Linked DNA regions of Homo sapiens. The protein of the gene in region 1 interacts with the protein of each later gene in a pairwise test. Each region holds a gene or a part of one and is shown on either strand. Other genes may lie near its edges.

What was found.
Region 2: the proteins of CYB5R3 (region 1) and TNFRSF10C interact in binary tests that used the Homo sapiens proteins (3 or more experiments, as listed by UniProt).
Region 3: the proteins of CYB5R3 (region 1) and VAMP4 interact in binary tests that used the Homo sapiens proteins (3 or more experiments, as listed by UniProt).

Annotation. Positions count from the first base shown.
Region 1 is NC_000022.11:42,647,451-42,651,198, reverse strand, and holds the start of CYB5R3 (NADH-cytochrome b5 reductase 3), read left to right. Parts: upstream 1-1,806; 5' UTR 1,807-1,883; coding exon 1,884-1,904; intron 1,905-3,748. UniProt on the Homo sapiens protein: Catalyzes the reduction of two molecules of cytochrome b5 using NADH as the electron donor.
Region 2 is NC_000008.11:23,101,326-23,105,073, forward strand, and holds the start of TNFRSF10C (tumor necrosis factor receptor superfamily member 10C precursor), read left to right. Parts: upstream 1-1,595; 5' UTR 1,596-1,796; coding exon 1,797-1,856; exon of another isoform or gene 1,857-2,233; intron 2,234-3,748. UniProt on the Homo sapiens protein: Receptor for the cytotoxic ligand TRAIL. Lacks a cytoplasmic death domain and hence is not capable of inducing apoptosis. May protect cells against TRAIL mediated apoptosis by competing with TRAIL-R1 and R2 for binding to the ligand.
Region 3 is NC_000001.11:171,721,351-171,725,098, reverse strand, and holds part of VAMP4 (vesicle-associated membrane protein 4), read left to right. Parts: intron 1-3,748. UniProt on the Homo sapiens protein: Involved in the pathway that functions to remove an inhibitor (probably synaptotagmin-4) of calcium-triggered exocytosis during the maturation of secretory granules.

The DNA.
Region 1 (3,748 bases):
GCCCATCAGGCCTCTGTTCACCTGTCTCCACCTCCAGGCCCTGCCAGCAAGGCGCTTCTCCCTTTCTCTGCCTGGTCTGTGCCACGTTGCCTGAACACACAGCCCACCCCATCCCCTCAGAGCACCAGGAGCTCACATCTGGGTCCAAGACCCTACCAGGAGAGCAAGGCAAGAGAATGACGCTAAGGCCCAGCATGAGCCTACACAGAGAAGGTGCCCACTGTCTGTCAAATTCATCCATTCAACAAGTATTTAGGCTGCTCATCGTGGCTCACGCTTATAATCCCAGCACTTTGGGAGGCCAAGGTGGGAGGATGGCTTGAACCCAGGAGTTCCGGACCAGCCTGGGCAACATAGTGAAACCCGTCTCTACAAAAAAATGCAAAAATGGCCGGGCGCGGTAGTTCCCACCTGTAATCCCGGCACTTTGGGAAGCCGAGGCAGGTGGATCACCTGAGGTCGGAAGTTCGAGACCAGCCTCACCAACATGTTGAAACACCGTCTCTACTAAAAATACAAAATTAGGCCGGGCGCGGTGGCTCACGCCTGTAATCCCAGCACTTTGGGAGGCCGAGGCGGGCGGATCACGAGGTCAGGAGATCGAGACCATCCTCGCTAACACGGTGAAACCCCGTCCCTACTGAAAATACAAAAAATTAGCCGGGCGCGGTGGGGTGCCTGTAGTGCCAGCTACTCGGGAGGCTGAGAATGGCGTGAACCCTGGAGGCGGAGCTTGCATTGAGCCGAAATGGCGCCACTGCATTCCAGCCTGGGGGACAGGGCGAGACTCTGTCTCAAAAAAAAAAAAAAAAAAAAAAAAAAAAAGATTAGCTGGTTAGCCAGATGTGGTGGCACATGCCTGTAATTTCGGGAGGCTGAGGCAGGAGGATCTGTTGAACCCTGGAGGCGGAGTTTGCGGTGAGCCGAGATCGCGTCAATGCATACCAGCCTGGGCAACAAGAGCGAAACTGCGTCTCAAAAAAAAAAACAATTAGCCGGACGTGGTGGCATGTGCCCAGCTACTCAGGAGGTTGAGGCAGGAGGAACACTTGAGCCTGGGAGGTTGAGGCTAAAGTGAGCTGTGATCAGGCTCCTGCATTCCAGTCTGGGCAAGAGTGAGACCCTGCTTTACCAAAAAAAAAAAAAAAAAAAAAGGTATTTATTGAGCACCTACTATATGCTAGGCTCTGTGTGGCTAGGCTCTGGGGATGTACGGGACTTCAAACCAGATAGGGCCTTGCCCTCCGGGAGCGCACAGTCCACTGGGATGGGGTGGGAGTGGGGGAAACACGCAGGAGGCCTTCAGCTAAGTGGGACAAAGATCACTCCACAGTGGGACAATGGCGTGGGGAGCGGAGGCGCCGCCGGCGAGGAGGCTCCGGGCGGGCCGTGCTGAGACCGCAGCATTTAACCCGGCCCGAGGCAGCTGGGAACAGTGCTGCCCAGGGAACTACAAATTCAAAGGCCCGGGGAAGGGCCGCGCTGAGCAGCTGCAGGCACAGGCCCAGGCCAGGCCAGGCAGGACCGGCCCCTGCAGTCTCGGAGGCCGGGGGAAGATTCCGCCTCTTATTCTCGCTCCCATCCGGGGGGCGCCATCTTGCTTCCTTTATGGCGGCGAACGAGGCCCAGAGAGGCCACCGTCCCGCGCGGGGCAGCACAGCGGCGGGAGAGCTCGGAGCGCAGAGGGCCGCATCCCCAGTTCCCAGTCTCCATCCCCGGCAGAAGCAGGCGGAGCGACCCGGTCCCCGCCCCCGCGCCCGCCCCGCCCCGCGCGCCCGCCTGGCCCCTCGGCCCCGCCCCTGCTCCGGAGTGACGCGGGCCCGGGCGCGACGGTCTCGGCGGCGGCGGCGGCGGCGACAGAGCGAGCGCGGCGCGGGGCCACCATGGGGGCCCAGCTCAGCACGGTAGGCGGGGAGGGGGCGCCGGGGCCGCGGGGCGTCGCGAGGGACTGGGACCCGGCGGCGAGGGGGCGGGCTGGCCTGCGGGAGGTGACGCGGGACCCGGGCCGCACCCGGCCGCACCCACTTCGCCCGCCCAGCCCGCCGCGCCCCACCCCACCCCACAAGGGCCTGGGCGAGCTACGTGGTGACCGCTACTTACGCCCTGGCAGTCTGCAGCGGGGACCCAGCCCTCCTGCCCGGGGGGCGCGCCAGAGCCCAGCACCCGGGGGCACCTGGGCCCTGCCCTGGCCGCCGTGGGGCCTTGGCTGCTGGAGGGACCCGTGGTTGTGAGCGTGTGTGCCGCTGAGTGTGAGTGTGTGAGCGAGCGTGTGAATGGCTTGAGAGTGAATGTGTGTGTGAGTGTGACCGTGGGTGTGAAGGGCGGGCATGGAAACGTGTGATGGGGTGTGTGTGTGTGTACGGGAGTATGTGAATGGGCGATGTCACTGACTGCGACTGAACGTGTGTGTGTGTGCGATGTCACTATGTCAGAGGGTTTTGCACGTTTAGCAACAAGGAACAGAACCCGGATGACACGGGGGCATCCTCCCAATGCTCAGTGGGCCAGGCTCCCATCAAGGCCAGGCTCCCACTGACCCTGCAAGCTGTGCTGGGGACCTCACACTTTGCGGTGTCAGTGCTGTTTGCCCCATTTCACAGATGGGGAAATGCAAACTAGTCTTGGCCACCGTCCCACAACGCTGCCGCCGGAAGGAGCCTGCTCCATGGGGTTTCAAAGTCCACTCTGCTGCTGTCACTCCTGGGCTGGCCTAGAGCCACCTTCCCTTCCCCCCAGGCCACCTCCTCTCCCCAGTTTCTCAAAAGTTGACCATGGTGAGGCTGGAGGCTTGAGTCTGTGTGGACATGTGGAGGCTGCGGCTGCAGAGGGCAGCTCTCCTGTCAACTGTGACCCGCTAGGCGTGGGGAGGCTGGCACAGGAGGAATCAGCCCAGTGCTCCTCCACCTCCACCTCTACCTCTATGCCTGGCATCTGCCACTTGGAGGGCACCTGGGTCCTCCCTCCTTGGGGAGGACCTGGAGTCTCCTCCTTGGGGATCCAGGCAAAAGGCCTCTTGGCTTGGGTGGTTGCTAAGGAAAGTGTGGCCCAACCCAGAACTTCGGGATGTTCAGACCCCAGGCAACCTTGGCCAGGGTGAACCTGTGGGCATCACCCCAACCTCCATGCAACACCCGGCCCATTTTTCCCCAGAAAGCATCTGCCTCCTTTATTGTTGAAATGTCCTGCCTGTGTCTCTAAAGCTTCCCCTGGTCTCCACCCAACCCTTCCCTGCTGTTTTTGGTGGTGTTCCATACCTTCCAGCTGGTGGTTGGATTTATGGCCACGTCCCCTGCACCTGGCTGCTCCATACATTTCTTTTTTCTTTTTTCTTTTTTGAGAAGAGTCTCTCACCCAGACAGTAGTGCAGTGGCGCGATCATAGCTCACTGCAGCCTCAACCTCTTGGGCACAAGTGATCCTTCTACCTCAGTGTCCTGAGTACAGGCACGTGCCAATATGCCTGGCTAAGTTTTTTTTTTTTGAGATGGAGTCTCTCTCTGTCACCCAGGTTGGAGTGCAGTGGCATGATCTCAGCTCACTGCAACCTCCACTTCCTGGGCTCCAGCAATTCTCCTGCCTCAGCCTCCCAAGTAGCTGGGATTACAGGCACTCGCCATCACACCTGGGCTTCGCCATCTTGGCCAAGCTGGTCCCGAACTCCTGACCTCAGATGATCCACCTGCCTCAGCCTCCCAAAGTGCTGGGATTACAGGAGTGAGCCACTGTGCCTGGCCTAATTTTTTGTATTT
Region 2 (3,748 bases), on another chromosome or scaffold:
TGCCCTCCCCGTTAGAGCTTTTCCAAGATCTCTGAAGACATCATGAGTTTTTCAGGTTTCAAGATTATTTTATGTCCTTCAGTCACAGGGGGAGCTTCAGCTAGTGTTCCATCGTAAGCTAGTAAGTGCCTCTCAAATGGAAACTTTATAGTCTAAAGGCCCAGTTCCCTGGAGGTGCTCACAGCCTTTTGCCATTAGCCCTAGGCAGTGCTCCACACAGGGCACAGAGAATGTGTGTTACCTGCAGTCTGGTTTCTAGTCTACACTGTGTAGTCCACCCTCCAGGGCCAAGGGGCCTGGAGTGCTCTAAAGACTTTCCTGCAGGCCCTCGTGGCTCTGTGTTAATGCTGTCAGTCTTCCTGAAGTCCTGTCCTCTCACCTCCTGCCTAGATCTGCCCCCAGCACACATTCCTGACTCCACACATTTCTCAGTGCCTGCGACCTGGCACACATTTCTGATCCGAACTCAGTGCCTGGGGCCTGGCAGGTGCCCAGGGCACTCCATTGCTCAAATCCAAGCCTGTGGAGAGGATGACATATCATTCCCAGGTTTCTGATGAGCAGAAAAAAAAATCTTTGTTTCTATAGTGCTATCCTCTTTTATCCACCATGTGAGAGGTCAGGAGCCGACTCACCCCAAGGGTCTAGGAGTTGTGCCATTGACCTTACTGCCTAGGGTCACAGGCTGGCACCCTTCAGTACCACACATTGGATCTCTCCACACAGCAGCAGTGTGCTTAACTCAATGGGGAGGTGAGTAGCCCAAGGTCAGATAGTTGGACCTGGATAGACACTTGACTGGGGGACAGGCTTTGGAAGCCACTCCCCTGGGCCTCCTCTGTCCATGGGGCCTCAATACTAGAGCCCACAAGGTCGGCCAGAGAGTGTCTGTGCCTCGACCATGCAAAGGGTGCCAGGTTGTGGCTAGGGATGCCCCCGGGGTTCCTCTCCCTCCTACCTACTCCTCAGCCTCTGCATGTGCCCGTCATGGCCCCTGTGTCCTTCATTCTGTCCACTCATGTGTTCACTGGGCCCCTCCTTGGTGCCAGGCACCCGCTACTGAGGGATACCAAGCCCCTGCCAGAGAAGCTTGGAGCTGGGTCACAGCAGCAAGGAGGCTGGAGACATCAGTGGCATCAGTGCACTGGTCAGTGAGGCCGCTGTGGGAGGAGGGAGTGGGAGCAGAAGCTAAGAGTGGACTGAAGTCCTTAGGCCAGGAGGTAGTTCAGGGTTTAAGAAGAGGAGAGACAGGCGTCCCGGGGAGGGAGCAGGCTCAGGATGGGCCTCCAGTGCCTCCTCTGGAGCTCACTACCCAGACTACAGCAGCGCAGTGGGCAGCGCCTCAGCTCCTTCCCCTTCTGCTGCCTACAGCCTGGACAGGACCCGGAATCAAACCGCAGGCCCTGGGTCACCGCTGCCGGAAAGAGCCAGTTCCTGTCCGTCCATGCACCCACCACCAAAACCCAGGCCTTCCTGGAGGTGCTAGGGGAGGCCATGCCCCTTTTCTGAGTGCTTGGAAGTGACTGCTGCAAGTGACAAGTGACCACGCCTTTTCCCCCGCGGGTATAAATTCAGAGGCGCTGCGCTCCGATTCTGGCAGTGCAGCTGTGGGAACCTCTCCACGCGCACGAACTCAGCCAACGATTTCTGATAGATTTTTGGGAGTTTGACCAGAGATGCAAGGGGTGAAGGAGCGCTTCCTACCGTTAGGGAACTCTGGGGACAGAGCGCCCCGGCCGCCTGATGGCCGAGGCAGGGTGCGACCCAGGACCCAGGACGGCGTCGGGAACCATACCATGGCCCGGATCCCCAAGACCCTAAAGTTCGTCGTCGTCATCGTCGCGGTCCTGCTGCCAGTGAGTCCCGGCCGCGGTCCCTGGCTGGGGAAGAGCGCACCTGGCGCCGGGAGGGGGCAGGGAGACGGGGACACGGCAGGGATGCCTGGCCCTGGTCACCTGCGGCCGGGCATGTCCGGGCAGGACGAACTCGCCGTCGGAGTCAGGGGAAGAACTGGGTCCCCGGGCTGGGCAGGAGGGACCCGGCCGCGAGGGAGCAGAGAGGCGGTCCCCCTGGCTGCCCCGAGCCCGCGAAGGGAGGGAAGTTCCAGAATCGAGAGAGGGAGGGAGTCAAGGTGGAACCCATAGAGTGAGCCTCCTGAAGACACAGAGCGGTTGCCTCTCTCATTAATTAATTAATTAGTTAATAAAATTAACCCCATGTTTACATTCTTAAACGTGTTCCTTGGAGATCGGTTTAACCAACAGCCAGTGAAAAAACTTTTCAGCGCTGTCTTTAGCAACTTTCACCTCCTCTGTCCTGAAAGTGGCAGGAAGCCGGAATGTGGCAGGAAGCGGTTAACCAAGGTGCTGCCTTGGTTAATGTCTTCCACTACCACCCGTGTGTCCCCTCTGTATCCCATAGGCAGGACCGGGGCTGGCCCCTTCCTTCAGCATAAACGGTGTAAAGTTGTTGTGAGTTGGCTTTGGAAACTGAGATTGGTAGTAGTGTGAGTGCAAGGACATATTATGTATAAAATATGCAGACTTCTAGGTCTCTTTCAGATTGATTGAGGTTTTTGCTAACAGCCCTTTTTAAGATTCTTTATGTAATACAAAAAAAAGAAAAAAGAAAAAGAAAAGGCCAAAGCAAGGTTACAGAAACCATGAGAGTTTGCATGTTGTCTTTCTACAAATTAATGCTAAATTCAGAAAAGCAGTAACATTTTCACCTCTCAAAAATTACACAACTGACTTTTAAAATAGTTTATAGTGGGTGGACTTACCTGAGGCAGCTAGAAGAATGGCTGTGTCAGGACAGTGGCCCTGAAGAGAGAATGCATGGATGACCAGTGTAGACAAGGCCAGCAACATCAGTTTCACGGTTTTGGGAATGTGAACTCTATGCGTCCCAAAGGAGGCTTTAATCCCTCCATCAGTCTTGCCTTATTAAATGCATTTAAATGTACAATCACTTTGTTAAATTTTGGAGCTAACACAAATCACATTAGATGTTTTATGGCAGTACATTCAGATTGATCTTCTTTTAAACAAGGGTATTGTATTTTACTGCATGGGTAAGCCACATTTTAATTCACTGTTGCCGCCTAGGGGCAGCTGGTTAGATCCCATCCTGACGGCCTTTGCTAATTCCAACAGCATTGTACTAAATACCCTTGTATGTATCGTGTGTCCACATATCCATGCACACCAGCTTATTGGGCAACTCCTTACAAGTTGAATTCTACTTCTCCTTCTGTGGGATAAATGACTTCAGAAGTTTCTTTAAATGTTCACGAATTTTCCTCCAAAAAACCACTGAACCCAGCTTACAGTCACACCTAGTCCACAAATGTGCCTGTGTCCCTACACCTTTGCTACACTTAGCTTTCATTCTTTACTAGTCTAAGATGTAAAACATAACACATCACATTGCTATGTATTTTTGTTTCCTCATGGTATTAGGAATTTTCAAGGATATAGGAGTTTTTTGGTACTGGGAGTAGACCAGGGTATCCAGATGAGACAGCAGGGAAGACTGAATTCTGAGCTGTGCACTTGGAAAACCCTGGTCAGTTGGGGCCAGTCCCTGCCACCCACCATGCCTGTGAATGGAGATAAGGTCTCCATCCTCAGCCTGTCAGGGTGACTTCAGATGAGCCTGGAGCTGAGTTCAGTTCCTGACCCCAGGTCCTGGCTCTGTCAATGCTGGGCTGGTCCAATCTGTGCGCCAGGTCCTTCCACACCATTCC
Region 3 (3,748 bases), on another chromosome or scaffold:
TTTTGAGGAAAAGGGAATGACAAGTTAGGGGACAGAGTTTCAGTTTTGAAAGATGAAAAAGTTCTAGAGATGAATGGTGATGACAGTTCATTAAGTGAATTACTTAATGCCACAGAACTGTATGCTTAAAAACGGTTAAAATAGTAAATATATGTTATATATATTTACCACAATAAAAATTTATTGACTATATATGTGTGGCTCTATTTCTGGACTCTATGTGTCTTTCTTACATCAATACCATAGTAATCACTATCCTGAGTACTACGACTTTATAGTAAGTTGTGAGGTAGTGTAGTGTATATCCTTCAACTTTGCACTGCCTTTTGAAAGTTCTTTTGGCTATTGGAGGCTCTAAGCATTTTCATATAAATTTTAGAATCATCTTGTCAGTTTCCAGCAAGCCTGCTAGAATTTTGGTTGAGATTATATTGAACCTATAGATGAATTTGGGGATAATTAACATCTTAACAATATTTGGTTTTCTGACCCATGAGCATAGTATATCTTTTTATTTATTTGGGTACTTAATTTCTCTCAGCAGTGTTTTGTAGTTTTCAGTGTCCAGATGTTGTATTTTTTTCTTTGTCAAATTGATCCTTAAGTATTTTCTTTTATTTTTTATTATTATACTTTAAGTTCTAGGGTACATGTGCACAGTGTGCAGGTTTGTTACATATGTATGCATGTGCCATGTTGGTGTGCTGCACCAGTTAACTCATCATTTACATTAGATATATCTCCTAATGCTATCCCTCCTCCCTCCCCCCACCCCATGACAGGACCCGGTGTGTGATGTTCCCCACCCTGTGTCCAAGTGTTCTCATTGTTCAGTTCCCACCTATGAGTGAGAACATGCGGTGTTTGGTTGTCTGTCTTTGCGATAGTTTGCTCAGAATGATGGTTTCCAGCTTCATCCATGTCCCTACAAAGGACATGAACTCATCCTTTTTTATGGCTGCGTAGTATTCCATGGTGTATATGTGCCACATTTTCTTAATCCAGTCTGTCACTGATGGACATTTGGGTTGGTTCCAAGTCTTTGCTATTGTGAATAGTGCCACAATAAACATATGTGTGCATGTGTCTTTATAGCAGCATGATTTATAATCCGTTGTGGGAAGTCAGCGACCCCGAATGGAGGGACTGGCTGAAGCCATGGCAGAAGAGCATAAATTGTGAAGATTTCATGGACATTTATTGGTTCCCCAATTTAATACTTTTATAATTTCTTACACCTGTCTTTATTGCAATCTCTGAACATAAATTGTGAAGATTTCATGGACATTTATCACTTCCCCAGTCAATACTCTTGTGATTTCCTGTGCCTGTCTTTACTTTAATCTCTTAATCCCGTCATCTTCGTAAGCTGAGGATGTATGTCGCCTCAGGACCCTGTGATGATTGCATTAACTGCACAAATTGTTTGTAAAGCATGTGTGTTTAAACAATATGAAATCTGGTCACCTTGAAAAAAGAACAGGATAACAGCGATGTTCAGGGAACAAGGGAGATAACCATTAGGTCTGACTGCCTGAAAGCTGGGCAGAACAGAGCCATATTTCTCTTCTTACAAAAGCAAATAGGAGAAATATCACTGAATTCTTTTTCTCAGCAAGGAACAGTCCTGAGAAAGAGAATGCATTCCTAGGGGAGGTTTCTAAAATGGCTGCTCTGGGAATGTGTGTCTTATATGTTGCAGATAAGGGATGAAATAAGCCCTGGTCTCCCAGGCCTATTAGAACGAGGAAATTCCTGCCCAGTAAATTTTAGTCAGACCAGTTGTCTGCTCTCAAACCCTGTCTCCTGATAAGATGTTATCAATGACAGTGCGTGCCCGAAACTTCATTAGCAATTTTAATTTTGCCCCAGTCGTGTGATCTTGCTCTGCCCCCATTTGCCTTGTGATATTTTATTGCCTTGTGAAGCATGTGATCTCTATAATCCACACCCTATTAGTACACTCCCTCCCCTTTGAAAATCACAACAAAATCTTGCTGGTTTTGCGGCGTAGGGGGGCATCACAGAACCTGCCGACACGTGATGTCTCCCCCAGACACACAGTTTTAAAATTTCTCTCTTTTGTAGTCTTTCCCTTTATTACTCAGACCAGCCGACACTTAGGGAAAATAGAAAAGGTCCTATGTTGAATTATCGGGGGTGGTTCCCTTGATATAATCCTTTGGGTATATGCCCAGTAATGGGATGGCTGGGTCAAATGGTATTTCTAGTTCTAGATCCCTGAGGAATCGCACACTGACTTCCACAATGGTTGAACTAGTTTACACTCCCATCAACAGTGTAAAAGCGTTCCTGTTTCTCCACATCCTCTCCAGCACCTGTTGTTTCCTGACTTTTTAATGATCGCCATTCTAACTGGTGTGAGATGGTATCTTATTGTGGTTTTGATTTGCATTTCTCTGATGGTCAGTGATGATGAGCATTTTTTCATGTGTCTGTTGGCTGCATAAATGTCTTCTTTTGAGAAGTGTCTGTTCATATCCTTCGCCCACTTTTTGATGGGGTTGTTTGATTTTTTCTTGTAAATTTCTTTACGTTCTTTGTAGATTCTGGATACTAGCCCTTTGTCAGATGGGTAGATTGTAAAAATTTTCTCCCATTCTGTAGGTTGCCTGTTCACTCTGATGGTAGTTTCTTTTGCTGTGCAGAAGCTCTTTAGTTTAATGAGATCCCATTTGTCAATTTTGGCTTTTGTTGACATTGCTTTTGGTGTTTTATTCATGAAATCCTTGCCCATGCCTATGTCCTGAATGATATTGCCTAGGTTTTCTTCTAGGGTTTTTATGGTTTTAGGTTTAACATTTAAGTCTTTAATCCATCTTGAATTAATTTTTGTATAAGGTGTAAGGAAGGGATCCAGTTTCAGCTTTCTACATATGGCTAGCCAGTTTTCCCAGCACCATTTATTAAATAGGGATTCCTTTCCCTATTTCTTGTTTTTGTCAGGTTTGTCAAAGATCAGATGGTTGTAGATGTCTGGTATTATTTCTGAGGGCACTATTCTGTTCCATTGGTCTATATCTCTGTTTTGGTACCAGTACCATGCTGTTTTGGTTACTGTAGCCTTGTAGTATAGTTTGAAGTCAGGTAGCGTGACGCCTCCAACTTTGTTCTTTTGGCTTAGGATTGTCTTGGCAATGTGGGCTCTTTTTTGGTTCCATATGAACTTTAAAGTAGTTTTTTCCAATTCTGTGAAGAAAGTCATTGGTAGCTTGATGGGGATGGCACTGAATCTATAAATTACCTTGGGCAGTATGGCCATTTTCACAATATTGATTCTTCCTATCCATGAGCATGGAATGTTCTTCCATTTGTTTGTGTCCTCTTTTATTTCGTTGAGCAGTGGTTTGTAGTTCTCCTTGAAGAGGTCCTTCACATCCATTGTAAGTTGGATGCCTAGGTATTTTATTCTCTTTGAAGCAATTGTGAATGGGAGTTCACTCATGATTTGGCTTTCTGTTTGTCTGTTATTGGTGTATAGGAATGCTTGTGATTTTTGCACATTGATTTTCATAATTTCTGATGCTACTAAAAATGACATTTCAGATGGTGTTTCAAAATTTTAAAATGTCATACTTATTGCTAGTATAAATATCATTTTGTAAATTAACCTTGTATTCTACAATCTTGCCAAACCCACTTAGTTTTAGTAGTGTTTTTATATATCCTACTGGATTTTCAACATAGAACAATTATGCTTTCTGCAAATAAAGACAGTTTTATTTCC